Linked DNA regions of Homo sapiens: region 1 is linked to region 2. The links come from fine-mapping of genetic effects on gene expression. A gene starts in region 2. The other region holds a variant in brackets. All regions are shown on one strand. Distances are from middle to middle. Region 1 overlaps FKBP1A-SDCBP2 (FKBP1A-SDCBP2 readthrough (NMD candidate)). Region 2 holds the start of SDCBP2-AS1 (SDCBP2 antisense RNA 1).

Region 1 (15,160 bases), 35 kb after region 2:
ATTTTTCAGCTCCAGAGTTTCTGCTTGGTTCTGTTTAATTATTTCAACTTCTTTGTTAAATTTATCTGATAGGATTCTGAATTTCTTCTCTGTTATCAACATGATTTTGTTGAGTTTCTTCAAAATGGCTATTTTGAATTATCTATCCAAATATTCATCAATCTCTGTCTGAGATTGGCCCCAGGTGGGTCCATAGATGTCGTCCAGAAGGCAGGGCCTGTAGTTGGGAACCTTAGGAGTCTACCTGATGCTCTATTCTACTGCGGCTGAGCTTGCATCCAAGCCACAAGACAAAGTCCTTTCCACTATTCCCTCCCCTTTCCTCAGGCAGAGGAGTCTCCCCATGGCCACCACTGTCCTAGGCCCGTGGTGAGTACTGCCTGGCTACCACCTATGTTCATTCAAGACCCAAGGGCTCTTCAGTCAGCTTATGGTGAATGCTTGTAGTCCTGATTCTCTCCTTTCAGGGCAGTGGGCTTACCTCTGGCCCAGTACAGGTCCAGAAATGCCATCCAGGAGCCAAGACCTGGAATCGGGGCCCCAGAGTCCCACTTGGTACTCGGTACTCTACCCAACTGTGGCCAAGCTGGTACCCAAGCTGCAAGACAAAGTCCCCTTTACTCTTCCCTCTCCTTTCCTTAGGCAGAAGGGGTCTCTCCCTGAGGCCACCGTAGCTGGGAATGTACTGGGTCACACATGAAGCCAGTGTGGCTCTGAGTCTCACCCAAGGCCTGCGGCCAGTACTACTTGGCTAACACTGCTGATTATTCAAGGCCAAAGGGCCCTTTAGTCAGCAGGTGATGAATTTTGCCAGAACTGGGTCCTTCTGTTCTGGCAGTAGGTTCCTTTCTGGTAAGTTTAGAAATGTCATCCAGAAGCTAGAGCCTGGAACGAGTGCCTCAGACCTCTGCTTAGTGTCCTATTCTACTGTGGCTGAGCTAGTATCCAATTTGCCAAAAAAAAAGCCCTGTTTACTCTTCTCCTCCTCTCCTCAAGCAGAGGGAAAGAGTCTTTCCTGGAGCTGTAAGCTGTGCTGCCTGGAGTTGGGGGAGAGATGACACAAGCACTCCCTTGATCACCCCAGCTGGTGTCTCACTAGGTCACATGCCTCCCAAGTACACTGGCTCCGAACACAGCATAGCACCAGGACTTGCCCAGGAATTGCAGTCCTTCTGGTCCAGACGGCCTTCCAAATTTATTTAGGACCCCAGAGCACTTTAGCCCACTTTGGCGGGGTTTGCCAGAACTCACGTTCTGACTGCTGGGATGGATGATTTGCCCCTGGCTAGGACATGGGCACTCGCGAAGTTCTGCCCCGTTGCTTTCCACTGTGAGAGGGCGGCACTGAGTTCCATTGCAGTGTCCCACAATCACTGTGCTCTCTTCCAGAAGTGCACATATTCTCTCTCCATACCACACTCAGTGCCTCTTTCTTTAATATGATTTTAATATCAAGTACTGTAATCACTTGTCTGATTTTTGGCTCCTATGAAGGTGCTTTTTTGTGTGGATCATTGTGCAATTTGGTGTTCTTGCAGGGTAGACAATTGCTGGAGGCTTCTTTTCAGCCATCTTGCTCCACCTCCTCCTGATTTGCTAGTATTTTATTGAGGAGTTGTACATCTGTGTTCCTGAGAGATTGGTTTTTAATTTTCCTTTATTATAATATCTTAATCTCGTTTCGGTATTAGGGTAGTGCTGGCCTCATAGGATGAGTTAAGAAGTATTCCCTCTGCTTCCGTTTTCTGGAAGAAATTGCAGAGAATTGATACTATTTATTCCTTAAACATTTGGTTTCACCAGTGAAACCAGTGAAACCATCTGGGTCTTGTACTTTCTTTTTTTGGAAGGTTACTAATTATTAATTCAGTATAAAACCAGCCTTGCATTTTAAGAATGAGTGAGAGGCATACAGTTTAATTCCATCACAACTGATCAGAAAACATACTTCACATAACTTCAATTATTTTAAATTTGTTAAAGTTTGTTTTATGTCCCAGGATATGGTCTATCTTGGTAAATGTTCCATGTGCACTTGAAAAAAAAATGTGTATTCTGCTGCTGTTGGATGGAATGTTCTAGAAATGTCACTTAAATGTTGTTGCTCATGTTGTTAATTTCTTCTAATCTTTGATGATTTTTTTTTTTTTGTCTAATGGTTCTATCAGTTAGTGATAGAAGGATGTTGAAGTCCACGCTGTAATTGTGGATTTATCTATTTCTTCTTTCAATTCTGTCAGTTTTCACATTATTTTATAACTTTGTTGTTCAGTGCATACTATTTTAGGGTTGTTGAGTCCTCTTGGCTTGGGGTTTGCTCATTTTCTTAAATCTGAAGATTTACACCTTCCACCAAATTTGGGGAGTTTTCAGCTATGATTTCTTTAAGTATATTTTCAGCACTGCACTCTTTCTCTTGTCCTTATGGAACTTCAATAGCTCTAAAGAGTATTTAGATCTTGGAGTATTTTCCCATAGGTCCTTAAAGTCCTATTCATTTTTAAAAAATCTATTGTCTTTTTTTTCCTCTGTTCAGACTGTGTAACTTTTATTGGTTTGTCTTCAAGTTCAATGTTTCTTTCCTCTGTCATCTCCACTCTGCCATTGTGTCCATCCAATGAGTTTGTTTCTGTTATTGTGTATATATATATATTTTTAAGTTCTAAAACTTCCATCTGGGGCTGGGTGTGGTGGCTCATGCCTGTAATCCCAGCACTTTGGGAGGCTGAGGCGGGCAGATCACTTTAGTCCGTGAGTTTCAGACCAGCCTGGGCAACATGGCGAAACTCCATCTCTATAAAAAATACAAAAAATTAGCTGCGCATGAAGGCATGTGCCTGTAGTCCCAGCTATTCACGATGCTGAGGTGGAAGGATCGCTTGAGCCCAAGAGGTGGAGCTTGCAGGTGAGCTGAGATCACGCCACAGCGCTCCAGCCTGGGTGACAGAGACAAACCCTGTCTCAAAAGAAATAAGTTAATAAATAAAAAATAAAATAGGCTGGGCACAGTGGCTCACACCTGTAATCCCAGCGCTTTGGGAGGCTGAGGCAGGCAGACTGCTTGAGCACAAGAGTTTGAGAGCAGCCTGGGCAATGTAGTGAGACCCTGTCTCTATTTTTTTAAAAATGATTTAAAATAAAATAAATCTTCCATTTGGGGTTTCTTTTTCTTTTTTTTTCTTTTTTTAAGATGGAGTTTCACTCTTTGTTGTCCAGGCTGGAGTGCAATGGCACAATCTTGACTCACCACAACCTCCGCCTCCCGGGTTTAAGCGATTCTCCTGCCTCAGCCTCCCAAGAAGCTGGGATTACAGGTGCACGCCACCACGCCCAGCTAATTTTGTATTTTTAGCACAGACGGGGTTTCTCCATGTTGGTCAGGCTGGTCTCAAACTCCTGACCTCAGGTGATCCGCCCACCTTGGGCTCCCAAAATGCTGGGATTACAGGCATGAGCCACCGCACCCGGCTGGGGTTTCTTTGTATCTTTTATTTATTGAACCTTTGTTTTTTGAGTGTTCATAGTTTCTTGTTAAAAGTGTTTTTGTTTGTTTTTTAATGATAGCTGCTTTAAAAATCCTTGCCAGACAATCCCAACATCAGTACCATCTTGGTATTGGCATCTGTTGATTGCCTGTTCTCATTCTGGTTGACTTTTTCTGTTTTCTGACATGACAAGTAATATTCAATATTATCAGTACTTTGGGTATTATGAAACTCTGATTCCTTTTTATATTTTCTACTTTAGCATGCATTCAACCTGCTTCAATTCAGAATGCACATCATGACTCACTTCTGTGGTCTGTGAGTTTGAATGTCAGTTTGGTTTCAAATTCAGCGTTATCTTGGTCTGCTCTGCCTGTGTGCTACCCAGAGACCAGTGGATACCCAGAAACCCGAGTGGTATTCCACAGCATAGCTCAGTTCTTAAAGCTTTTGCTGTGTTAATTCTGATGAGTTTCACACATAGGCCACTTGGGGATGTGCACAAATTGAAAGACGCTTTTTCCGCAGCTCCCTCCTCTCTGTTATTCTGCCCACACTCTCTGTGAGGGGGTAGGTGCTGCCTCTGTTACTGCAGGACAGGTGGTAGTCAACAGGGCTCTACCCTAGAGTGTCCATAGCATCCCATGGGAAGAAGGAGGAGGGAGGGGGTGTCACCTCTTATCCCATTAGTGCAGGATGGGGCTCATTAATAGAGCTCCACTTGTCTCCAGAATCACTGGTGAGGAAGGGGAGTGTTGCCCCCACATTCGTGCACAGCAGGGATGGTTCACCGAACTCCACACCAGTCTCTGCAGAGCCTGTTGGGGAGAGGAGGGCTGTGGTTTCTTTGATGGTGTTCACCTGGAGTAGAGCAAGTATTGTCAAAAGGGTCATCCTCGGAGGTTGCAGTGAGCCGAGATCGCACCATTGCACTGCAGCCTGGGAGACAGAGCAAGACTCCATCTCAAAAAAAAAAAAAAAAAAAAAGGCCATCCTTCATTACTGTCCTCTTCTAGGTCCTTTGACTAGAGAAAGCATTTTCCTTAGGACTTTTGTTGTCTGTGCTTGTTGGTCATTTCAGATTGTGCCTTCCTCTAGTGCCCAGGTTGAAATACGTGAACACTACGAAAGCCTCTGGGAACTCCCTGCCAGGTCATCCCTTGAGACTTAAGTTTCCTTGCCAGTCTGCCTAGTTTACTTCACCTTTAGAGGTTTCTGATAGTTGCTTTATGTATTTTGTCTAGTTTTTAGTTGTAATTAGCAGAAGGAATAGGGTGGAGTCCACTTACTTTATCTTGTGTGAACATGGAAGCCCCATGTATTTTTTAAATAAACTTTTTGAGGTGTAATTTACATGAAATAAAATGTACCCATTTAAAGTATACATTTCCATGAGATTGACAAATGTGTATATCCATGTAACCCTAACCACAATCAAGATATAGAACACTCCCATTACCCCAAAAGGTTCCCTTTGTCTTCCTTCCTAGTCAGTTTCCTCCATCCTGAGCCTCAGACCTGGCCTGATTTCTGCCAGTGTAAGTTGAACTTGTCTTTTCTAGAGTTCCATATGAAGAAAATCACATAGAACGTAATGTTTGTAAAAGTCTGGGCCGGGCACGGTGGCTCACGCCTGTAATCCCAGCACTTTTGGAGGCCAAGGTGGGTGGATCACAAGGTCAGGAGATCGAGACCATCCTGGCCAACATGGTGAAACTCCATCTCTACTAAAAATACAAAAATTAGCTGGGCATGGTGGCACATGCCTGTAATCCCAGCTACTCAGGAGGCTGAGGCAGGAGAATCGCTTGAACCAGGGAGTCGGAGGTTGCAATGAGCCGAGATCGCGCCACAGCGCTCCAGCCTGGTGACAGAGTGAGCTTCCGTCTCAAAAAAAAAAAAAAGTCTGGTTCCTTTTACTTATTATAATATCTGTGAGATTCATCCATATTGTTGGCATTTCAGTAGTTCATTCCTTTTTATGTTTGTTTTTGCTTTCATTTGAATTGTCACTATCCTATGCTCTTGCCTGACAGACCCTGAGAGCCTACTGACCACAGCAGCTCCTGTTACCACGGCTGCCGTTTCTGCTCTCAATGCTACTGCTCATTGATCCCAGGGAGGAAAATTCTGGTGCATCACTTAGTATTTATTTCAGGTATGGTTAGGACATTTCAGAATAAAGGATGGCTTCTTCTGGATGTATCTGAATTGATCTGCTGTCATATACTTATGAATCACATGCTCAGACCAAAGTACATAAAAAAGTCATTCTCTTTCCAGACAATTTTAGGGGTTTGTAACCTTGGTCTTATATTGCTCCATGGCCTATGAATTAGTAACAGGACTAGTGAAATTCCTAGTAACATAGTCCTGTTACTACAAGATTACCCATATCCTTTGATGATCCATCTACTGCAAACTCATAGAATTTACTGGACAGTCTTCTTCATTTTATGTAAGAATGACCACTGTATCATCATATGTCAATGTCCTGCATAACTGTCACCACCCCTCCATGCCGAATACCTGGTAGCTTGTGATGAGTTGAGAACCTCACTAAACAGTCTTATCCACATCCTCAGGTTCTCTGAGGTTTTCCTTCTGTCCAGTCCATGCACTTGTACCCCTGGTGGTCGAAGTACAGTCACGCACTGCGTATGATGTTCTCATCAGTGGTGGGCTGCATACACAGCAGTGGTCCCATAAAACCATAATGAAGCTCAAAAATTCCTATTGCCAACTGGCATAACGTCATGTAGTGACACATGACCTTTTCTATGTTTAGATCTGTTCAGATACACAAATCCTTACCACTGTATTCCAATTGCCTGTAGTATTCAACAGTCACTGTACAAACCTGCTGTATAGTTTTGTAGCCTAGGAGCTACAGGTTGTACCGTATAGCCTAGGTGTGTGGTAGGTAGGCTATACTATACAGATTTGTGTAAGTATACTCTATGATGTTCACACAATGGTGAAATCTCCTAATGACACATTTCTCAGAATGTCTCCCCATCACTTTGGCCAGCTGACTCAGTTTGTGATGGCAATTGTGAGACCAGTTGAAGGGCGATCTGACCTGTATATTCTCTTGGTTAATTGTATTTACAAATTGGATACATGATTTCTCTGATTGCTCTCTTCACAAACTACATTTGAATATACAAATGAAGTGCTAAGTGGTTTTTATACAGGGAAACAAAGCCAGTTTTGTTTTCTACCAATGCAAGTTTGGATAAATTCTTTTCAAGAAGATGACTAAATATTTCCCATTTAGCAAAGTCCTCAGATAAAGAGATGCCAGGTATTTCTCGTTATGTTGGTTTCTGTATTACTATCTGTTCAGACACAAGCGTCCTTAAAAATGTGCTTAGTTGTAATTTCTTCATAGATTTCAACCAAAACAACATATTGCAAGATTGAATGCAGAAGTAGATGTGAGAACTCATTCTATTAAGCCAAGCGTAAATGTTTAAAAATGTAAAATAATACCACTCTTCTGATATGTTTTGGGAGAAAATATGTTTGTGGAAAATATACCTATCAAAGAAATATCAGAAACCTTCCAAACTGAAGGACATGTGTATCCAGATTAAAATGACCTTCCAAATGCTTAACATAGTAAACAAAAAACAGGAGGAAAAGGAGGGGAGAAAAGAAAAAAAGAAGACTCACACAAGGCCGTGTTACGACATTTCATCATACCATAGATAAATCAGATCCTGAAAGATTTCAGAAAGGAATATGAGATCACACATAAAGGAACAGGAATCAAAATGACATTACCCTTCTCAACAACACTGGAAGCTCCAAGAGAGTGCAGCAATGCTTTCATCCTCAGAGAAAATAATTATCAATACAAAATAATATTCCCAGCTAAGCTATCAATCATGAGGGTAGAAGAAAGGCATTTTTAGCCATTGCGTGGGAGTGCTATAATAATGGTCCCAGTGAACCACACCTCCCTGTATCCGCACCACTTTGCAATGAGAAATTTGCTGTTTCTCCTAGTGAGAGAGGGAGTCTATTTCTTTACCCTTGGGCCTGGGCTGGCCTGGTGACTTGTTTTGACCAATACATGGAAGAAGTGACATTATGTGAGTTCTGCAGCTGAAGCTTTAAGAGGCCTTGAAGTTTCTCCTCACCTTCTTGGAACCTTGAGACCACCATG[C/G]TGTGAGAAGCCTGGGCATATCTACTGGAGGCCGAGGGGCCACATGACACGTCTAAAACTCATACGTCAAGATATGGTAATATAATGTGAAATTCCTAGAGCAGCTTAATGCTAGTCTCTATTTGGCTACCTTTTTCTTTAGAATTGCTTATATAGTTAGTGTATGAGATTTTTTGTTATATTTTGCAAATATTTTCTCTCCATTATAGCTCATCATCTTTTAGCTTTGTTTATGGCATGTTTTTATGATAGAGAAGTTTCATTTTTTATTTTTAAGTGGTTACATCTATTAATAATTTCCTTTGTGTCTCTGAGGTTTTGTTGCTTAAGAAGGACTTCTCAAAGATTTAACCTTATTTTTTACTTAAAGAGCAAAAAAAAAAACAAAAAACAAAAAACAAAACACGATCACAATATAAGCCAGTATAAGCAACTGGTTCGTGCAGGATGGTGGTAGTTATCAAAGAGAGCGGGGGGTCTAAAGCTCTAAGGAGTCGTCTGGAGAAAGCCAGGCAGAGACTTGCTGCTTTTCTATTCTACTTCTTTCCCTTCTCATCCAGCTTGAAAGCTGCACCCATCAAGTGCGTCCTGAATCTGACGATTCACTATCTTCACTTCCGCCAGTCTGCTCCAGGCCTCCATCCTTTCTGGCCTAAATGAACCCCAAAGCTGGCTTGTGTCCTGCATCCATCCACCACTCTTGCCCTTGTTTCACTTATCTATTGCTGTGAAATAAACTTCAAAACCAAGTGATTCAGTCTCACAACTCTGGTTTTCCTGGGCTGAGTGGGGTGGTTCCTCTATTCATGTGATGTGGCTGGAGCTGTGGGCATTTGTGGGCTTGAATGGGCTGAGTGTTCACCGTGGTTCATTCACATGGTGGCAGCTGGCTAGGTTCTCAGCTAGGACGATGGCCTCTCCATGTAGCTTGGGCTCAGAGCTAGTGTTCTGAGAAGGAAGTAGAAGCTGGCAGTCCTATTGAGGCCTGGGCTTGAAGTCCCAGAACATCCTTTCCCACTGCCTTGTAATGATCAAAGTAGTCACAAGGCCAGCCTAGATTCAAGGGCTTGGAGGAATACTACCTTTCAGTCAATTTCCCAGTTTCCAGAGGATTTTAAAAAAACAAACGGCTCGACACAGTGGCATGTGCTACTCGGGAGGCTAAGGTGGGAGGATCGCTTGAGCCTGGGAGGTTGAGGTTGCCGTGAGCTGTGATTACACCACTGCACTCCAACCTGGGTGACAGATCAGACCTTGTCTCAAAACACTCTCCCCAAAACAAATAGACATAATTCTCCTGCTGGAATCCACTGCTCACTAGACTTACATTGTAATAGCCTGCCTCACCTGGCCCCTGCCTAACTCTGTCCCTCACACCTTTGCTCTGTCTCTAAAGGTCATACTGCTGTTTCCCCAGCACCCCAAACTCACCACCCTTCAGGGACTTAGCCTAGAACAATTTTCCTCCAGGACTTCACTTGGCCACTTCACTCCATTGCTTCCAGACGGCTGGCATTATTTGCCCATCTGTTTTGGGTCTCCTTCACTGGCATGAATGTAAGGTCCTTGCCAGCAGCACTTTTCTGTCCTATCCTACATTCACTCTTAGCATCTAGAATGGTGTTATCACAGGAAAGGCATAAAAGTATACTCTGTGGTTAACTGAATTTACTTGCCTAAATCTTGGGCATGTGATGCTTTGAGAAATATACAAATTAATGTTAAACAGAACCACAGTGGTCAGTAACAGGCACATCCAAGGATACACTAGTCCTGCATACATACCCACTGGCATGTTTCTACCTTCCTAATAAGAGCTGACAGCCGTTTTGCTGCATGCTGTACAGGACAGCTGCTGCTGCAAACTCAGCCTCTGATGGGCCCATAGTCGATGTGCCCACTGCATGCCTTGAACTCAGGGAATTCAGACGAAATCATCACACACTCCAGCCAGAAGCTAGAGGGCTGCCGGCCTTGACATTTTAATGCATTTTTGGTGTCAGCTGCCCTTCACTGATTCACTCAATTCTAGAGGTCTGAATGAGAATCCCTACACGCTTCTCAGGGGTTCTGAAGAAGCCAGTGTAGCCCAAGGTCATCAACCCAAGTGAACCCACATTTATCCAGGAAGCAAGAGGTGTGGCAAGGGCAGAATTCTAACAGACATCCATTCCACATGTGTCAGAGACAAAACTAAGTCCAAGATAAAATCGACAAAGGCTATTTATTCATAAACGTGCAGCAGGGGAACCCTTCTGCTGAAACCTTTGTTTTGGTAAGTGTTCAGAGGTGTTAAGACGTTATAGAGTAAAAAGGAGAAATACTGACAGTGTTGACTTGGCAAATGTCATATAAGGGTAGGATTTGTGGAAGCAAGCCAAGAGACAAAGTGGTCTTCAAGTACATTTGACTTGATTAGCTTCAAGGAGGCAGGTGAGCAGTCTGGGACCATTTCAAAAGAGGAAAGGGGCGGAGAGTTTTCTGTGGCCAGCCATTTCCTGGAAAAAGTGATGGTTGATGGGATGCTTTTTTGCAGTCTATCATCATGGTTCTTAGGGGTGTAAAAAGTAAAGTGAGGTTCCTCTTCAAAGACTTTCCTCCCTGTCTAATTAAGAATAAATAGTAACTTCTCTTAGGAGCAAAACTTATTCAAAGACCTGTGCTAACATTCTTAAATATCTGCTAGCCGTAATAAAGAAATCAATGTACTTTATGTTCTTAGCTCCCACAATTTAGCCTATTTGCCCTGGCAATGCTTATACTGGTCCAAGCAAGCATTAGGTCATAGCCTGTTCCTCTTCCTTATCTGAAGGTGTTTTTACGTTTCTCAGCATTCCACAAGTTACTTCCTCCTTCATTCTCCTCTGCCTTTGCCTCTTTTAAAAAGTTCTAAGTTGCTAGCCAATCAGGACAAATACAGAATGTGAGGTCCCGTTCCAGCCAATGGAAACTGGACACAGCAGTAAAGTGGACTTGTCAAGTTATAAATGACCCTGTCTCCTTTGTTCGGTGTTCTCTCGTGGCAAAACTGCTGGCGAGTGTACCCTTTCTGCAGAAAGTATAAAAATGACCTTGCTGAAGAAATTAATGTTCAAGTGCTATTTCTTTGCGGCACTGAAGAACAAGCATTTCAAACAGAGGGTAGGGTGGGGTGGTGGTGGTGGTGTTATGTGGTTGCCACAGCTAAGTTAAGTTTTTCACATGGATCATTAACTTTCAAATAATTAAAATTTTAGAGATGCAAGGTATCTTAAAGTTCATCTGGTCACTCTGACCACCCACATTCCCACTCTCATCCCAAGTTCATTTAATGGATGGAAAAACTCAAACAAAAGGTAGTTTGGCATCTAACCCTTAGCAAAGGTTAGATGTGGAATTAGAAGTTTTCCTGAATCCTAGGACTGTAGTATAACCATCATGCATTTCAAAAGTAAAACAAAAAAGGAAATTTAAAAAAAGAAAATACAGTAAGTAGCCACATAAACCGCTTCTAGCTGGGTCCACTGGTCCCCCTGCTTCTTGTTTATTAACGGAATCTGTTCAGGGGCTCTAGGGCTCAGAGCTTTAGGGGAGTCTGAGCCCTTCTCCAGCCCTGGGGTGATGGGTCTTGATTGATCCAGGTCAAATTCTCCACAGATTTAATTCTGGCCAATGAATATGAGAAGAAATGAGAAGGTGGAAAGGTGTCTTAGTCTACTTTTTGCTGCTATAATAAAAATACCAATACATGGGGTAAATTATAATGAAGAGAAATTTATCTCATGGAGTTCTGGAGGCTGGGGAGTCCCAAAATCAAGGTGTTGGCATCTGGTGAGGAGCTTCTTGCTGTCCACCCCATGGTGGAGGGTGGAAGGGCAGAAAGAGAGAGAGGGCTGGAGGCCAATAGGTGGCTGAACTCATTTTTTTATGAGGAACCCACTCCCATAATAACAGCATTAATCCACTCATGAGAGCAGAGCCCCCATGACCCAACCATTTCCCATTAGGTCCTACCTCCCCACACCCACTGCACTGGGGATCAAGTTTCCAACACATGGAACTTTGGGAGACACATTCACGACATAGCAGAGGACCACTGGAGAAAGGAAGGTTTTTAAAGATTTTTTTTAGGACACTATGGAAGTGATAGCCATTGGACATGGATGGTGTTTTTGTTTTTGGCATGGGAAAAGGCTTATACAACTCTGGTCAACTTGGCAACACTAATCAAAAGTCAAAATCTCCTTTGACCCTAGGGATCCCCTACTATTAACAGTATTATATCTTATAGAACCTAGGTATTTAGGAAAGAAAAAAATGTTCAAAGATGTATTGACATTTAATAAAAGCAAATAACTGGACATAACCCAGCTATCCAAATACAGGCTATCAGGAAACACTGTGAAGGACTTTGAAATAGGTCTTGCCCACTGCCCCCACCCCTGCCTCCAATTACTGAGTGTTCTGTCTAATCTAGCCCACCTTTCTGAGTTGATTCCCTTTCATTTCACTGCCTTTGAGCTACTTTACAATTACGTAAATTAAGGGAAACTGATAATGCAGATGATTCTTGTTCATAGAAATGCAAATTGTGACCAATGGAATATAACTGATTATTGTTCTGCAGGTATCAGCCAATTTTGCCAGTTTTGTAACTACGAAGCAAACTCATTTCAGCATTCCTGCTAGGCTTATAATTATTTGTTCTTTGGATTCTCCTTTGAGCCAATTAAAGTGTCCTACTGGTTCTCTCAATAATTAACAAGTTAAATACAATCATCTTTAACATGTTACTTTTATATTTGTATGAGTCATAATTTTAACTTCTAAAAAAATTATCCTTTAACAAGGTAGTTAAGTAAATTTAATGTTCATGTGGTATAATTTACTTAGCAGCCCTCTTAAAACAGTTATAAAAACCATATGGCAACAGGGACAAATACTCCTGATAAAAATGGCAAGTGGGGAAAAAAGCAGAAATGCAAAATTTGTACTACGTTGTGATTAAAGCTAAACGTTGTAAGTGCTTAGGGCAAGAAATAGGAAGGAGAAAAAAAATTGAAGTTGGATTTGTTTGTTAGGGTGGTAGGATCCTGGATTAAAAAAAAAAAACAAAACCCTGACATTATTCTGTTATACATTAAAAATAATATTGGCGGGCATGGTGGCTCACGCCTGTAATCCCAGCACTTTGGGAGGCCAAGGCAGGCGGATCACGAGGTCAGGAGATCGAGACCATCCTGCTAACACGGTGAAACCTCATCTCTACTTAAAATACAAAAAATTAGCCAGGCGTGGTGGCACGTGCCTGTAGTCCCAGCTACCAGGGAGGCTGAGGCAGGAGAATCACTTGAACCTGGGAGGCGGAGGTTGCAGTAAGCCGAGATCACGCTACCGCACTCCAGCCTGGGATACAGAGTGAGACTCCATCTCGGGAAAAAAAAAAAAAGTTGGCCCTGTATTAGTTTCCTATTGTTGCTGTTAACAAATGGTTTAAAGCAACACTAACTTATCACCTTAGTAATAAATTCTGCAGTTCTGGAGGTCAGAAGTCCAAAGTGGGCATCACAGGGCTAAAATTAAGGTATGGGTGGGGCTGTGTTCCTTTCAGGAGTCCTAGGGGAAAATCCGTTTCCTTGCCCTTTCCAGCGTCTAGAGGCTGCCAGCATTCCTTGGCTTGTTGCTCTCCTTCCTCCATCTTCAAAGCCAATAGCTTAGCATCCTCAAAAGTCTGTCCACCCTCACGTCGCCTTCACTGATGCTTATATGGATCCATGTGCTTACACTGCATCCGCCCAGGTAAATACAGATAATCCTCCTATCTCAGGGTCCTTACCTAACCACATCTGCAGAGTCCCTTTTGCCATGTAAGGTGACACATTCACAGGTCCTGGGGATTAGGATGTGGACATCTCTGAGGACTCCCATCCCCAATCCAGAGGATTTCCCTGAAATGCCAAGTTCAGTGAGAACAGCTTCCCATATGCCTGAGTGAAGGCACAATACTGACTGTGCGAAAGGACATAGTGTGGGACTCCATTTAAATTAAATGTCAGAACAGGCAACACTAGCCTATGGTGGAAAAGAATTACAATTACCACCTCCAAGGGCGGGGTGGGGTTGACTGGGGAAGGCCATATTGGAATTTTCTGGTATGGTGATGTTCTTTATCCTGGCAGGGGCACAAAAGTGTAAACAAACACTACTCTCTAGTCTAGTCAATGACACGTACTGGGGGAATTGTAGTGATGTCTGCCATTTACTCTGAAGAGACATAATGGATAGTTTGATGGACAGATGGATAGACAGGTGATATATAGATACAGTAACATGTTTATGATAGAATCTAGGTGGTGGGTATACAGGTGTTCATTTTAATCATCTTTGTGTTGTTTGAGAATTTTTATAAAAATGTTGGGGATGGTAAGATGTGACCCTGGAATATGACTCTGGCACTCTAAAAACCATAAATTAACAAAAAGAACTTAGAAAGCCATTAAGCAAGCTGTTGAATAATTTCCTTTTTAAAATCAATGGTTCTCAACCTGGGCAATTTTGGAAGGTGTCTAGAAAGGTGTGGGAGCATTCTTGACGGTCTCTAGAACTCTCAGTAAGGGCAAAGTGTTCCTGGCACCCAGGGCAGGGTCCAGAGAAGCTACTGCAACCACGCAGCCTCTCCACAGGACTGTCTTTCTACATTAAATGTTACTGAGGAATACCAATTTAAAATCAGAGTCTTCTCTTCGTATCTCATTAATTTGCTTGCAGTTGCTTGTAGCACATCTCCAAGTGGACTGTGACTCACTTCTCAAAAATGTGTTGTATCTCCCACTTTTCTGTAACCCAAGAACCCCGAGCATAGTGCTCTACCCAGAACACATATTTAATAAACATTTGGTAACAGGGGAGGGGATGTTCCCTGACTATCCCAGCTTGCCCTTTCAGGCAGCTCCTTTGATGCAAACCTACCCCACATTCCCCCTCCTCTGACCCCCAACCCGTTAATAGCCAGTGAGGAAGGATGTTCACTGCTGCATTCTTCTGCCAAGACACAATCTTGAAACTGCATCCCCACTGCCACCCTCCTTCACCCTGCCCAACCCCATCCCCCTGCACCAAATGGCAGGGGAGGCACCTGAAAATAACCACCATGACACAGAGCTGAGAAAAGCCGGCATAAAGCACTTTTATTGCAATAATAAAACTTGAGACTCATAAATGGTGCTGGGGGAAGGGTGCAGCAACGATTTCTCACCAAATCACTACACAGGACAGCAAAGGGGTGAGAAGGGGCTGAGGGAGGAAAAGCCAGGAAACTGAGATCAGCAGAGGGAGCCAAGCATCAAAAAACAGGAGATGCTGAAGCTGCGATGACCAGCATCATTTTCTTAAGAGAACATTCAAGGATTTGTCATGATGGCTGGGCTTTCACTGGGTGTTAAGTCTACAAACAGCACCTTCAATTGAAACTGTCAATTAAAGTTCTTAAGATTTAGGAAGTGGTGGAGCTTGGAAAGTTATG
Region 2 (15,167 bases):
CCAGGTCACCCAGGCAGTAAGAGGTGGGTGGCAACTGGAAGCCTGGTCCTCTCTTCCCACCATGTTGAGTCCTTAACCCTGGAGCCTCCCATACCTTTGGCATTGCCAAGCTTCCCTGATGATCTCTTCCCTGAAAGGACTTGGCACCCAGGAGCCCCTCATCCCAGCCCACTCACCTGGTGGTGGGGAAATGGCTGTTGCCTGGACTGGCAGGGCTGGCATCTTGGGTGAGGCTCTGACCTGGGCCTGGGGAGGAGCAGGGAGCACTGGTCAGCTGTGGCCAGGACCCCAGGAACCCCAGAGCCTGGAGCTCCATGAGGCCAGGGTCTGGGCATTAGGGGTGTGAGTGGGCCCGGGGTGTGGGGGGAGTGTGCACCAACCCTCAGGGCTCAAGATCACGTAAACGTGGCCTCCGCAGATGTGTCTTTTCCTGGGAGGAAGTTCTGGGGGACTGTGACCCACCCTATGTCACAACCCATTTACTGCCTGCAACAGGCAGAACATCAAGGCCCATCTCCCAATCAAGTTCTCAGCTGAAAAGTCTCCATTTCTCAAAACCCACTGGAACCACAGAGTGCTGGGATGGAGGAGGAAGGGGGCTTCTGGGGGCTAAGCAGACCAATGCCTATGCCCACTAGTCTTGTTTCCTCTGAAAGCCTGCCTTAGAGCATGGAGCCCGCCCATCCTGGAGGGAGGGAGAGCTGGGCCTGGGCAGGACAGAGCAGGCATGAGAGAGGCATGCGTGCGCTGCTTGGTCTTTTCTATTCTTGCTGTAACGCCATTGGCATTGCCCCCTGGATGTCTTCTCTGCCCAGCAGGCCCTGCAGTGGACACCTACATGCCCTGAGGCCTACGGGAATCTCCAAGTGGCCCCAGTACCCAGCACCTTCCAGGGTAATCCCCAAGGTCCCCTTCAGGGAATCCAGGCCAATGGGGCCTGGCGACTTACCTGAATGGCTTGGTCCACTTTTAGGTCCTCTAGAGATGGGTACAGGGATGACATGGCTGATTCTCAGAACACCCTGCAGAGTGCAGAGGGTGGGGAAGGATAAGGATGCAGCTGATGCCCCCTTGAAAGGAGGCACAGACATCCGCAACAGCAAGCGGGTTGGAACTTAATATTCAAACAGAAAGGCAGCAGGGCACTTAGAATGCCTCCCCGAACTCCACCCCTAATCCCCTGTCGATATTTGAACTCTACTGTATTCCACTCATCTCCAGCCTCACTGTCAACTTTTAATCTTGGCCACAATGAAGTAAGACCAGTAGGAAATTTATAAAGACTCTCACACAAACTGTAGCAGAACTTAGACACTCAACAGGGCACTGCTCCAGAGGGAGGAGGGAATGGGGGGTGGAGAGGCACCATGAGCACTTATTTACTAAACACCTTCTCATTGTCCCAGGGAGAATCAGCAGGACCTCTGAGCAAGGTGCCCCGAGAAAGTGAAAGGAATGATGACCTCTTAAGAAATGTTTTATTCCCTTCCTGACGAAATGTGGGGAAGGAGCAGTCTGCCTTTCTGGGTTCCTTCCCTTTACTCACTAACCACTGGCTCTGTCACACCTCCAGGCTTCGCTGAGGCAGTCCACTCCAACTGGAGCCCCTGCCCAACCTCCTTGTCACCCTCGGTTCCTGTGGGACACGCCTCCCCTGGCTCCCAGGCAATACGGTCACTGCCCCTCCCACCCAGGACCCTGCCCTCCGGGACAGCTCCGGGACAGCACCGGGCCAGCCTCTTGCTTGAACTCGCCACTTGTCCTGACTGCAGTTCTGAGGGGTAAAGGTGTGTCCTATTCACCCCACTGAACTCACATGTGATGGGTACACATGATAAAGGAATGCCCGCTGGTGGCACAGGAAACTGAGGGTCCTGTGCCTGAGCGATGTGACTCCAGGCTTCCCAGGATCAGATCCGCTGGGCACCTCCCTGAGTGACCACAGGCACGCCGAGGACATACTCATCCATCACTGCTCCTTCTCCTCCCTCTGCACCTGCTGCCTTGACCCCTGTGTCATCCTTGGCCCCGCCCCCACTATCCCTTCTTGTCTGTCATCAAATCCCATCTCTCCCACATCCCGTGTTGTGCAGGTCCCCATCATCTCCCTGGCCCTCTCCAGGTGCCATAACACCCTCCAAACACACTGCTGCCTCCCCTCCTGCCGTCCTGCTGCTCTCCAGACAGCAGCCACCAGGCCCTTTGTGTACACACTTGGGATGTCATGCCCTGGCTGAAAGCCCGCCAGTGGCTTCCCTGCCTTGGGAATGTACTCTCCTTAAAGAGGCTCACAGGGCCTTCACGATTCCACCAGAGATTGGAACTGGTGGGCCCAGGGCCAGATGGAAATAGATTTTATTTGACCTTGTGGAGTACTGTAAACGTTCAGATTAGCAGCTTAAACACAAAGCTCAAGGTACTGGATTTAATAATCGAATTTCCCACTGCTCCCAAAAAACAGGAAGCTTTGGCAACCCTAGGCTATAGCAGAGTAGCTACAATTGAGTAGCAGCAGACTCCAGGGTGACCCAGTCCACCATCCTCTATTGGCTGTTACACCCAGACCATTGTACTCACTGGTGCCAAGTCCCAATAGATATTTGTTTGCAACCCTAGTCTACCTCTCCAGCTTCATTTCTTGCCTTACGTCCTTTCAGCTGCTACTTTCAACTCCAGCCACAATGAGCTACTTCCACGTCCTTGCATGTGATTCCCTCCTGTCTCTTTTGCATGTGTTATTCCTTCTATCTGGAATACCCCTCCTCTCCCTGCTCCTTGCTTGGCCAACTCCTAATAATTTTCAAGTCTCAGATCAGGGAGCTCCTCTTACAGGAAGCCTGCTTTGATTTGTGCTCCCCCTAGCCCCTGCTCCATGTCCTACTCCTGTTGAGTATTCACCACTCTTGTGGTTGCCTCTTTACTTGTCTGTCTACCTCCTTAGGAGTTCCAAGATGGCAGGAACAGGGGCTTCTCATTTGCTGTGAAGCCTCTAACCCCTAGCATGGAGGCTAGCTCAATAATATTGCCAGAAGCAACACATTCTACCTGGGCTTCCACTTTTCTCCTTGTAAAGTAAAGCTCTAGTATCCTAAGAACACCCACCTTCCTGGATGAAACAAGGACCAGAAGTCCCAAATGTGCCTCTCACAGTCCTGTTTTATTATTATTATTATTTTGAGACAGAGTCTCACTCTGTTGCCAAAGCTGGAGTACAGTGGCGCGATCTTGGCTCACTGCAATCTCCAACTCCTGGGCTGAAGCCATCCTCCCACCTCAGCTTCCCAAGTAGCTGGGACATAGGTGCATGCCGCCACACCTGGTTAATTTTTGTATTTTTTGTAGAGACAGGGTTTCAGCATGTTGCCCAGGCTGGTCTTGAACTCCTGGGCTCAAGCAATTTGCCCGCTTCGGTCCCCCAAAGTGTTGGGATTACAGGCCTGAGCCACTATGCCCAGCCTTTTGTTTTTAAAATCTGAATTAGTGCCAATATTTAAAAATCTGGAAACACAAAATGCGTCACTTCTTACTTGGATTGAAAAAAATATAAACATTTGGCAAGGCAAGAGCTGGAATAGTGCATGGCAACACTCACCCGGCTGAGTCACAGCCTACCTCGCAAATGGGGCTGTACGTGCTTTCCTGTTTCCGCAAGTACCCATCAGCCCTTCACTGATTTACGTTGCCTGCTTGGTTCCTGGAGGCAGCCAGTTCCAGACCCTGCCCTAGCCTGGCCTTTGGGGTAGAAATGACCATCCCAACAGGACAGGAATTTCCTGGGAGGGGAGGGAGTCTGGCTCTGACTTCCTTTAGACCACCTGGGGGAAGAGACCCCTTTGCTTATAGCCTTCCCCACTGTGTACACACACTATGAGATTTTTAATCTTGGGACAGTCCTGAGCAGCTATCATCTGCCAAAACATGACCTGCCACCAGGACCACGCATGAACAGCAGATGCGAAAATAAGCAGCCACTCCTGCCCTGATTTTCCTAACATTTAACCAGTAGAGCACTTATATTTTTGTCAGCTGTCCCCTGGGAGAGCAGGGAGTCAGAGATCCATTTCCTGGAAATCACTCCCGGGCCAGATCACATAACCCTTTTTCTGTGTCTGAGATCCTTTCACCACTGCCACCTTCTCTGGATCCCATCTTAGTGCTGGGATGCGGGGAAGTGAGAAAACAGGTACAGTCGTTCCTTGGGGTAGGTTCCAGGACAATGCCCCTCACTCCCCATCCCTCGGATACCAACATCCACAGCTGCTTATGTCCCTTACATAAAGTGGCATAATATTTGCATATAACTTATGCACATTCTTCTGTATACTTTAAATCATCTCTAGATTACTTACAATACCTAATGCAATGTAAATGCTAAACAAAGTTATATTTTATTTTTATTTGAATTTTTGTTGTTTTTTTTAATTTTTATTTTTAAATATTTTCTGTCTACAGTTGGTTGGATCCATGGATGTGAAACCTGGGGATAGGAAAGGCATACTGTATCCCCTGCCTTGTAGCAGCTCACAATATAATGGGGAATGGTTCCCTGCCAGCGAACATGCTGTGTTTCGTTCAATCATTCAAAACATTTGAGTGTCCACTGTGTGCCAGACGTGCTGGTCCCTCTGCTGTGCACATCATCCTCCTTGGTGTGATGCTCCTTCGAGGCTCAGTTCAGATGCTACTTCTCTGCTTGGCTTTTCCAGACTGCATGATACCCAGGCTGCCTGGCTGGGTCTTCCCATGTATTCCACCCCTGACCTGTACTGCCCCTGTTGCCAAGCTATTTATCAAATTATGTGATTAATATCTGGGTATTTTCTTACACTGGACCTCACTCATAAGGGCAGGAGCTCTGTCCCGTTCACACACGATCCTTCCCCGCCACGGCACTGCCCAGCACACATATGCTAGCAAAAATTATTTGACTGAATAAATCAGTGGTTTTCCAAGGAACAGATTGGAAATTTATGTGGGCATTTTTGGGTGTCACGAGACTGAGGGGACAGTCATATCCCTGTCGGGGGTGGGGGGGGCAGGGATATGAAACTCCTGTAATGGATGGGACAGTCCATTACAGTCACCATAACAAATGGTCCTGTCCCGCACAACTTTCAGATATCCTGCCAAACTTTCAAGTAAGCCAAAAATCCGTTATAATTGGTTGTACATACAATCACAATGAATTTTTCCCTAGTTTTAGTACACACTAGACTGTCTGGAAATGCATATATCAGGTTGGTTGTGGGGAGTTACACTTTGCTCACCATTCTGGAAAATCGCTGCCCACCCTGCTCCCCACGGGTGAGTCACCCGAACAGCATGCTCACGTCTGTGTACATGTGTAGCTGTCACAGTGACTCCGCGCTTTTATATAAATATATTTAGCCTTTGACTCAAGATGTCAGATATAAACTGTTGGCAAAATTCAGCTGAATATTGTCTTCTAGTAAACCTAAGCTGATTCCTAAGTTGGGTACAAGCGTGATCGGGTGTAAGCCAGCCTCAGCTTTTACAAAGTGAAATGCATATTCTTTTATTAGAAATTACTTTCATGTCCCTGCCTTCTCCTTATAAACAAAGGGCATCATATTGATTTTTTACCCGGGGAACCATCACCTGGGCTGCAGCCTCAGGACGAACCTGTGCCTTCCCTCTGTCTCAATTTCCTGCTTTGGGAAATAGGAGCCACAAGCCACAAACTCCATCCACCGCGCCACAGGAGCGAGGTCCAACGCAACGGTCCCTAGGGCCTGCCTCCAACCCAGCCTCAGTTTCCTATCTGTCACATCGTTCTATGATCTCGAAATGACTATAACCCCTTTCTTAGCCCCAAACCAGCCGGAAGCGACATCTTCCGGTTGCTACAGGTTACGGCGGTTGCTATGGGCTACGGCGCCTGCGCAGAAACACCGCCAAGCGACTCAGCAACTTCTAGAGCGCATGCGTTTCGCCCACCCAGGCCCGGGCGCGGTTAGGGGTGACTCCCACGATCCCTAGCGGCTGCAGAGTGGAACATGGCGGCCTCCTTGCCGCTTGCGTTACCAGAGTCCACCCGGCCTCGTGCTTTCTCCGGGCGCCCGTAGCTGGCGCCGGCATCCACAAAAATAGATCAGGTAAAGCAGCAGAGTAAGGCATAGGAAGACTTGGTCGGGCTCCGCGGCCCCTCTTTACCGGATTGGAGGCTGCGCGGGTGAAATCGAGCTTTAAACTCCCCTGGCCTCGGAACACCATTTGTAGCCTCTGAAGGAGGAGGACTTATAAGATTCTGTACTAAGGCAGCCGTGGGAAGGGAGGAGAACCAGGTCGGCCCGCGCGCTCCCGGCTGCTTTTGCTCTCCCTTTGGTTTCGAAAGCGTCAAGTCCCAAGGTATTTCCTACCAATTGTGACGTCACCCTTCCTCCCCCGTTTCTCACCCGTTTCTTGTCTGGCCGTGACTTCTGACCCAGTGTTGAGCTAAAAATGCCCCGCCCCACCCTACGCAGATTCACCCCGCGTCCCACCCACCAGTGACTGAGTGACTGGGCTTCTGCTGCCTAGGGAAGGGTTCTTGGCTTGGCCGGGCAAATCAATTCCCACAGCAAAATCAGACCGAAAGCCTGTTATGAGGGACTCAGGCAGTTGGATGTGGCGTATAGGAGGAAGGCTAGGGCAATCAGGAAGGTCTCCTGGAGGAAGGAAGAAGACCCTGACTGGGCCGTGTAGGATGGATGTTCAAGTGGGAAGAGAGTGTGCTATTCCAGGGACAGGGAGGCCCAGGCCTGAGAGTCCAGTTGCCTTCTGGATCCCGTTTACCTCGCAGATTATCCAAACTGGACTCGTGATTTTCCCCAGCTGTGCCGCGCCTCCCCAGCGGTCTCACTGAATCCACCCATGGGCTATGTCAGAAATCTGGGAGTTATCCTCAGCTCCTCCCTTTCCCTTCTGAAGCCATACCTACTTCTTGCCCTCAAATCTCTGTGACCTGACTTCTGGTAATGTTTCCATTCTCACCATCTCATTCTTCTCCACACTTATCATGAAGTTCATTTATTCCAGACTACTTTAGGTTGAGTCCTAAAAGTCAGCCTGCTAGTTCATGCCTCCATGCTTTTGCAGGTGCTATTCCCTCTGTCTTAAGAGTCATTCATGCCTTCTCTCTTTTCCTTGTTGTGAACTCTTTTTCCTCCAATTTAAAGCTTTCCCCCACCTGTACGCATGGAGATTGGCAAGCCTCCCTTCTCTAGACGACAGCATTTCTTGTATTTGCCTCTTCATCATATATTCCACAAGTGTTTGTTAATCACCTACTATGAGCAAGGCCTTCTGCATTTCCTAGGTTGGATTTCCACTGTGCTGTGTTTGTTTGCTCATCTCCCTCACTGGTCAGGAAATGTCACTCATTTGTTAACCCCCAGTGCTGAGCACAGTGCCTGGCACACAACAGGCATCCCATTACTATTTCTGAAAGGAGTGGAAAAGCAGGCACAGAGAGAAGAGAAAGCCTGATATCCTAAATATACAGTCTTTCTTCCCATGCCTGTCTGTGTTTGCAGTCAATAAGTAGAAAGTCTTTCGAAGAATAACCTGGGCCTGGAAAAGGAGAGAAACCATGGCCCTAACGAGTTAGGTTGAAAGGCTGCCTGGCTCCTATAATCTGACAGTGGAAGTTTGCTCAGTTCTGTGCTGATGGCTTCCCACAAGTAATTGGTTCCTCCGAAAGGAAAAGAACCCACCTAACCCCTCTCTCTCAGAGGAATTTTCCTCTCCCACAGCCCTTTCCAGATTTCCATCCCTGAGCTTCTGTACTTTTTGATATAAGCAATAACAACACCCACAACAAACCAATAGCTGGGCTTCGGAGATCAGCAGGGCTGACAAGGGGACTTCAGCCCCCATCTTTGAACTTAGAGTGAGAACACTCTTTGGAACACTTTGTTCCAAAGAGCTGAAGTGATGGAACTCCCACTCGTTCCTGTGGACAGCTCATCCGTCCTTTACAAGACAGTGCGCGGGAGGGAAGCGTGGGTTAGAGTGTCAGAGGAATAGCTCCTGGAAGGCCAAATTAGCCCAGGGATGTGGTGAGTCGGAATAGAAGAAGCTGTTGCTAGGCCACCAGCATGTACCCCCACTCCTCCTCTCAGTGCTGCACTGCCTGCTGGGGAAAAGCTGTGACTTCCTCAAGCAGACACGCCTGAACCCAGGCCCAGGCAGGGCAGGGTTCAGACTGACTGCTTCTGACTTGTGAGAGCACAGCATAGGCAAATCCCCTTTGAATGTCATTTCTTCCTTTGTAATCTGGATAACAATAGTTGCATCACAGTTGTCTGGAGACTGAAAGATTTTTAAAAAGAGTTAAGGTGTATATGGAAAGCATTTAGCACAGCACCTAGCACATAATAGGCATTCAGTAAAAGTTAGCTGTTTATTCATTGTTTCAGCGCTTACTTACTCAGCACCTGCTAAGTCTGAGTACTGTTCTAGGTATCAGCAGTGAAGGAAAGAAGACTTGGTCCCCAAATGTACTTTCTTTGGGGGAAGAGCTGGATAAATAGGCTTTGTGACTCTGTGTGCTGTGTTAGATGGTGGGAGGCACTGGAGAGAAAGAGCAGGACGGAGGGTCATGTCAGGAGGTTCAGAAGCCTTGCTGGCTGGGTGGGGTGACATTTGAGGAAAGGCCTAATGGGGTGGGCACGGCCATTGCAGAGCCTCTCAGGTGGGAGTTGGTGTTGTGTTTAGAGGACATCTGCCAGTGAGAAGCCAGTTGTGCAGAGAGGGAGTAAGGAGGAGTAGTGGGGAGGAAGCTGGAGAAGTGAGAGGGGCCAGATCCTGGAGGGCCTGGAGGTCATGGTGAGGACTTTGGCATTTACTGTAGTGAGATGGGAGCCACTGGGGGATTTGTAGCAGCAGAGTGCCAAGGTCCAAGGGTTATTTTGACAGGCCTCCTCTGGCTGATGTTTGGAGGATGGGCTACAGGGCAGGAGTGGGAGCAGGAGCCCAGGTGGGAAGTGATGGTGGTGGAATTGTCATGAGCTTGGGCCACTGTACGTGAAGCTGCCTGTCCAGTGCTCGCCCAGCCCATACCAGGCTCGTTTTCTGCCCCATTTTCTGAGACCCTGCTGAGGAGGGCATGCACTGGCTCCTGTGTCCAGTATGTCCTTCCATTCTCCTGACTTTGTGGGCTATTTTCAGTCTCCAGATGAAGAAACCAGTTCTTAGAAAGGTGAAGCCCCTGGCGCAGTTCCCCAGCAGGTGTTTCAGTGCTGTGGCAGGAAGGTTTTTTGATAGAAACAGCCTCAGGCCAGAGAAGTCGGCCTGAGCTGTGGATTCCTTGGGAGAAATGGGCTTTTTGCCTGCCTGCAGCCTCTGGTTTCGGCTGGAATTGGCCTTTCAAGGAGCAAAGTGTGGATCTCATCTCCTTGAGCACAGTCATGGGCAGTCAGAAGGCATCGGGGGCCCTCATGATGTCTGGGTGAAGAAAATCACTCAGCCCTTAATCAAACTTGGTCCAGGGCTGGGATCAGAAGAAGAAACCCCACTTCACACTTGACTGCTTGGAGTGAAGCACTTCGAAAGGAAGCTGCCTGGGAAGTCCCAGAAGGGAAGGGGCAGGGAGGGAAGGGGACAGGGTGAGAGCAGGTCTCACTCATCCCAATCCCAGCCAGGATTGGGTCAGGGCCCCCAGCGCTTACCTGCAGGCAAGGTGCTGCTCCACGACCTTCTCCAGCTGCTGCCGCTGCTGAATCTGTTTCCCTCCCTGAAACGTAGCCCTGTCTCTCAGCTGGCTTCCTGATCTGGGAAGGGTGGTGCCTGTCCCCTGTTCAGCTGACTCACCTTGGACTGGGATGGGCACAGGTGAGGGCTGTGGCTGGGTAAACAAGGCAGGTTGCCAGCCCAGAGGAGGCCTTTGGCCTTAGTCTGGATTTGGAGGTGGGATTAAGGCCCTCACAGCTGCTGTTCAGACGGTTATGAACCAAGACTTCTTGGCCTTTTCTTAAATAGCTCTAAATTTGGGTTGGACACCTAGTCCTGCTGATCGAGGCAGTTGGCTAGAGGGCGGTTTGTGATAGGTATCTAGGGGTCTAGGCCAGGATATTAAAAAGTGGTCATATCCTGTGACCCAGCATTTCTTCTAGGAATTTGTTACAGTGGAGTCACAGGGCCCATCCATCACTGCTGCTTCTAGTAAGGAAAATGTAGAAATCCCAAATGCCCATCTCTGTGGTCTGCTTGAATAAATCATTGTCTGTGGAAGATCACAGAGCTATTAAAGTCACTTAAGGAAGAAGGTATGAGGAAACATTTCTGAGATTCTAGTGAGATGTTGAAAAATCAATATTGTGAATCTCTTCTTGCATTTTGTTTTCATTTTTTGTAAAGTGGATGTGCGTTGAAAGCAGTCTAGGAGGACATACGCTAAAATGCTGAGTATCTCTGAATGGCAGCATTGAGGGTGAGGTTTTCAGTTTGTACTTTTGTGTGTTCCAAGGTGGTTTTTTTTTTTTTAAGTTAGCTTTTGCTCTGAATGCTCATGACTTTTGTAAGGGGGAAGCAATTAAGTTTGATTATTTTAATGGGAATTTAGAGTGGTTGTCTCTTGGGAGCAGACCTAAGGAGCTGTGTGCTGAGGTGGAGATTTTTTTTTTTATGGCACATTTTTGGTGTCTTAAATTTTGAAAAGTTTAAATGTACTACTTATTCCAAAAATAATTATATAAATTTGAACAGAAAAGGAGGAAGAATTTAGTTTAGATCCTGGTGGGTTTGGTTGGGTGAGGGTGCCTGTCGCACTGGGTGCCTGGGGAGGGACGAGGGACTCGTGTGCTGGGCAGTCCCATGAGGATTGACGCTGTACACACTCAGGGTGTGTCAGTATCTGGGCTGCTTCCTGGGCCAGGCAGGCCTACGTCACAGTTCCCATGACCCACCTGGCAGAGTTGCACTAGCCTTGGGTGTCAGATCTTGTGCCTGCCAATGAAGAGCTTACAGCCCAGAGTCCCACACAGGAAACACACAATAGGAATAATAACAAGAAAGACATTTGCCACTAATTCAGCACTTACTCCCAGAGAGCACAGAGATTCTACCCCTGGCACTTTAAAGGCATTATCTCAATGGCTTCTCATGCCATCCCTGCAGAGTAGGTGTGACTCACACCATTCCTCCAGGTGGGGACACTGAGGCACAGAGGCAAAGTTTCTCTCTCAAGTTAGCTGGAAAGTGGGCCAAGTTCATGTCTTCTCTTCTATGGGACATACTGTTTCAGAAAGCTGAGGTGTGGGGCAACCTCAGAGTAAGCTGTGTGGGCCTGAAGCTGAGGTAACGTGGGTGATGGACCCACCTTAGGTCAGGTGTCCAAGGCCAAAGCAAAGTGGAAAATAGAGATCCTAACTAAACCAAGCCACTCCTCCCCCACCTCACTTCATTCAGTCATGACCTGAAAGGGCCTTTATAGAAGAGGGAGGAGGAAGCAGGCCCTTCCAGGTAAGGGGCTTGCCTGTGGTCCCAGCATGTCAGCATGGAGCCCAGGTCCCCTAACTCCCACCTATTTAATACCTACAGGGACTCTCTTTCTATTCCCTCTTTGGATAGTTGCCACCCATCACTGACTTCCAGCCACCTGGAAATATCTTTCATTGGGCATGCCCTTGCTCGAACTCTTCAGTGGCTCCCTCCTGCTTCAGGGTCTGGGCTAAACTCCCAGGGCTGACATGGAGACCTCCACAGCCCACTCCCTTTATTACCTCCTCAGCACTCCCCCAGCACCTCTGCCTCAGCTGGACTGGGAGCCCCACCATTCCTGCCCCACTGCACACCCACTTCCTACCTGCCCTGACTCCATACCTTTGCCTGTCCTGCTGCTGCCCCTGGAACACCTTCTCCTGCCCCCACCCACCTAGCCACATCCACCACTGAGCTCCTCCAGGAAGCCTCTGGGATCCCCCACATCCATGTGGCCTCTCCCGCCTCTGACTCTGGATCAGACGCTCCTGTTCCATTCTTTAATAATCATCATCTTGTACTCATGTGTACCTTTTAGGCTACTAGTTAGACCCTAAGTTCCCTGAGGGCAGGGCCAAGTTATTAGCTCTACAGTGGTCATTCTTTTGAGACAGCATTTCGCTCTGTCACCCAGGCCATAGTGCTGTGGTGCAATCATGGTTCACTGCAGCCTCCACCTCCCAGGCTCAAAGGATTCTTCCACCTCAGCCTCCCTATTAGCTGGGACGACAGGTTCACACTGCCACACCTGGCTAATTTTTTTATTTTCTGTAGAGACAGGGTTTTGCCATGTTGCCCAGACTGGTCTCAAACTCCTGGGCTCAAGCAGTCTGCCTGCCTGAGCCTCCCAAAGTGCTGGGATTACAGGTGTGAGACCCCACACCCAGCCAGTTACTCTTTTCAAAATAAGGAGTGGAACTGTGCTCTGACCAGACAATATTTCTGCTTTGTTATATATTTGTATGAACAAGTCTAAAACTTTGGGTGGCCAGTAAACAGCACACACTCAGAAACTCCCTGGTAGCACCCATGGCACCCTGAGTAATCAACCACTAATGTCCTTCCTGCTGGGCCCAGAGGCCTCTCCGGATCCTCTCGTCATAATGCTGCAGGCAGCTACCGTCACCTAGAGTTGGCTCATGAGGTGAAGTCTCCATGCCATCTGGAATGGGTGCTCCATGATGGCAGGGGCTTGTCTTAACCCTGAGGCCTAGTACTATGCCTGGCACATAGCAGGCTCACAGTAAATTTTTTTTTTTTTTTTGAGATATGGTCTTGCTCTGTCTGCCAGGCTCAAGTGATCCTCCTGTCTCAGCCTCCTACGATCCTCCTGCCTCAGCCTCCCAAGATCCTCCTGCCTCAGCCTCCCACAATCCTCCTGCCTCAGCCTCCTGAATAGCTGGGACCACAGGCGTATGCCACCACAGCTGGTTAATTTTTGTATTTTCTGTAGAGATGGGGTTTTGCCATGTTGCCTAGGCTGGTTTTGAACTCCTGGGCTCAAGGGATGTATCCACCTTGGCCTCCCAAAGTACTGAGATTACAGGCGTGAGCCACCACACCTGGCCTCAGTAAATATTGACTGAGTGAATAAATGCCCCTCCTAGAAAAGTCAATCACAGTTAGAAACTTAAATGGCTGACCCTTATTTAAAAGATGGGTTGGGCTGGGGCATCCGATCTGAGTCCCAGCTCTGTGATGTTGCACATGTTACTAAACCTCTCTGAGCTGTAGTTTCCACACCTACCTTCTTTATAGACTTATCCTGAAGACTAAATGAGGTAACCATGTGAAGTACCTAGGACACAGCTGGCATTTAGTAAATGTTAGTTTCCTACTTTCTCATGGCTACATGTCACAGAAACAGTCATCTGATTGGAGTGAAAATAGAGATGCTCTTCCCAGAAGAAGAGAGAATGTCGGCTGGGCAGAGAAGGAGCTGCTCTACACTCCAGCCCTCTGCATGGAATCTGGGTAGTGCAGCAAGACCCTGGCTTATGTCATCACAGCTTTGTTCCTACTGCTGAATTGAAATAATAACAGGAAGCGTAGCATTTATTGAGCTCCTGCACACTGGGTGCTCTGCTGGGCACTGGGCATACACTGATCTCATCTGTTCACCATAATTCCCAGCTTCAGAGTGAAGCACTTTGCCCAAGGCAACACACCCCAAGAGTGGTAAGGCCAGGCCTTGGCTCTGAACCTCTAGGAGTCTCCTACCCTAGTGCAGCTGAGTCACAGATTTCTCTTTAAGAAACCCACAAAGAAGTCCTTAGGTGGCAAAAATTTGATCACATGGCCACATAGAGCTGCATGGGAGACTGGGAAATGGAGGCAGTCTATTGTTAGCAGGTTCTGTGCCAGCCTCTACTATAGCATGCTGTGAAGCCCTGCCCTTTCTGGACCTCAGTCTCCGTATTTGGCCAGGGAAGAGTTTGGATGGATTTTCTCTGAGGTTTGCCCTAACGGTACTAAGGCCCCACAAAGGGCCAACTCTATTGCCACTTCCAGTCCCTCCTGTGGCGTGAACACCAAAGATGTCCACTATGAGCATTTGGTCTCCAAACACAATGTCCTTCATGCTATTTCTGAGCTCCATCTTGGTTTTGCTTTTTGGAGATGTGTGTGAGTTAAGGTAGGCCAGGTTATGCTGCAGCAACAAACAACCCTGAAATCTTGGTGGCTCCTAATAGGAAGTGTCATTCTCATGCACGCTACTACCCGTCAAGGGCTGGCAGGGTCCCCATGTCTCCTTACTCCAGGACTGGGGGTGATGGAGCAGCTGCCATCTCAAAGGCCGTCAGAAGCCACGGCAGAGGGAAAGAGATCTCTATCTGGCAATTAAGTGCTCCAGCCCAAATGACAGATGTCACTTCTCACACCTTGTTGGCCAGGTTACCCCACCTCCCAATCACAAGGGAACAGGGAGCTGCCATCCCACCACATGCCTGGAAGGCAAAGAGTAGGAAATATAGGAGGATGACATTAATAACAACCTCAGGCCTCTGTTCCAGAGTGTCTGCCAGCCAGCTCTGATCATCTGTGTCAGGGCAGGGGTAGCAGATGTGGCCTGGGAGGCTGCACCGAGCCCTGCTGGGACCTACATGGGGAGTGAGGGGCTGAAGAGATGGAAAGACGTCTGACATTCTGGAGTCTGGGGCCGAGGCTGGACAGCGCAACCTGCCACTGTAGGTAGAATTCCTATGTTGAAACTGAATCTCCAATGTGATAGTACTAAGAGGTGGGGACTTTTGGAAGGTGATTACGTCATTAGGGCAGAGATTAGGACTCTTATACAAGAGGTCTGAGGGAACTTGTTTGCCCCTTTACGTGACGATGCAGTAAGAAAATGTAATCTTTGAAGCAGAGAGCACCTTGATCTTGGACTTCCCAGCCTCCAGAATTATAAGCAGTAAATTCCTGTTAAAAAATTACCCAGTTTAAGGTATGCTGTTACAACACCCTGAATGGACTAAGACACAGTCCCAGGCAGGAGCGTTAGTTTCCACTTCTGCAAAATTGGGGCAGTATTCCCTAACCTGCAGAATTTTGATGAAGATGAAATGGATGAGTAACAGTGGGGAAACTTCTGTCTACTCCCAGCAGCCTTCTACGGAAGGTGGACTTTTCAGCAGAAGACTCTGCCCAGCTGAGCCCTATGCTGGATTTGGGTGGTCAAATTTGAG

The links.
Region 1: its variant is fine-mapped to the expression of SDCBP2-AS1 in whole blood (INTERVAL, PIP above 0.99).

Annotation. Positions count from the first base shown.
Region 1 is chr20:1,354,178-1,369,337 of GRCh38, forward strand. The region is part of intron 2 of FKBP1A-SDCBP2 (FKBP1A-SDCBP2 readthrough (NMD candidate)); the gene reads right to left. The region is part of intron 1 of SDCBP2-AS1 (SDCBP2 antisense RNA 1); the gene reads left to right. FKBP1A (FKBP prolyl isomerase 1A) reads right to left here. Exons shown (of 5, transcript NM_000801.5): 5 at 14,801-15,160. Among named protein-coding and RNA genes, the nearest start is that of MIR6869, 31 kb to the right of the region's middle. The variant C/G (reference allele first, on the strand shown) is at 7,660.
Region 2 is chr20:1,319,414-1,334,580 of GRCh38, forward strand. It overlaps SDCBP2-AS1 (SDCBP2 antisense RNA 1), which reads left to right and starts at 5,930. Exons shown (of 3, transcript NR_040049.1): 1 at 5,930-6,116. SDCBP2 (syndecan binding protein 2) reads right to left here and starts at 9,726. Exons shown (of 9, transcript NM_080489.5): 1 at 9,672-9,726; 2 at 950-1,022; 3 at 177-246. The coding sequence starts at 1,003. FKBP1A-SDCBP2 (FKBP1A-SDCBP2 readthrough (NMD candidate)) reads right to left here. Exons shown (of 10, transcript NR_037661.1): 3 at 950-1,022; 4 at 177-246. It overlaps LOC124904856 (a long non-coding RNA gene), which reads left to right and starts at 1,022. Exons shown (of 2, transcript XR_007067487.1): 1 at 1,022-1,787; 2 at 4,453-4,956. RefSeq lists enhancers at 5,992-6,221, 6,212-6,506.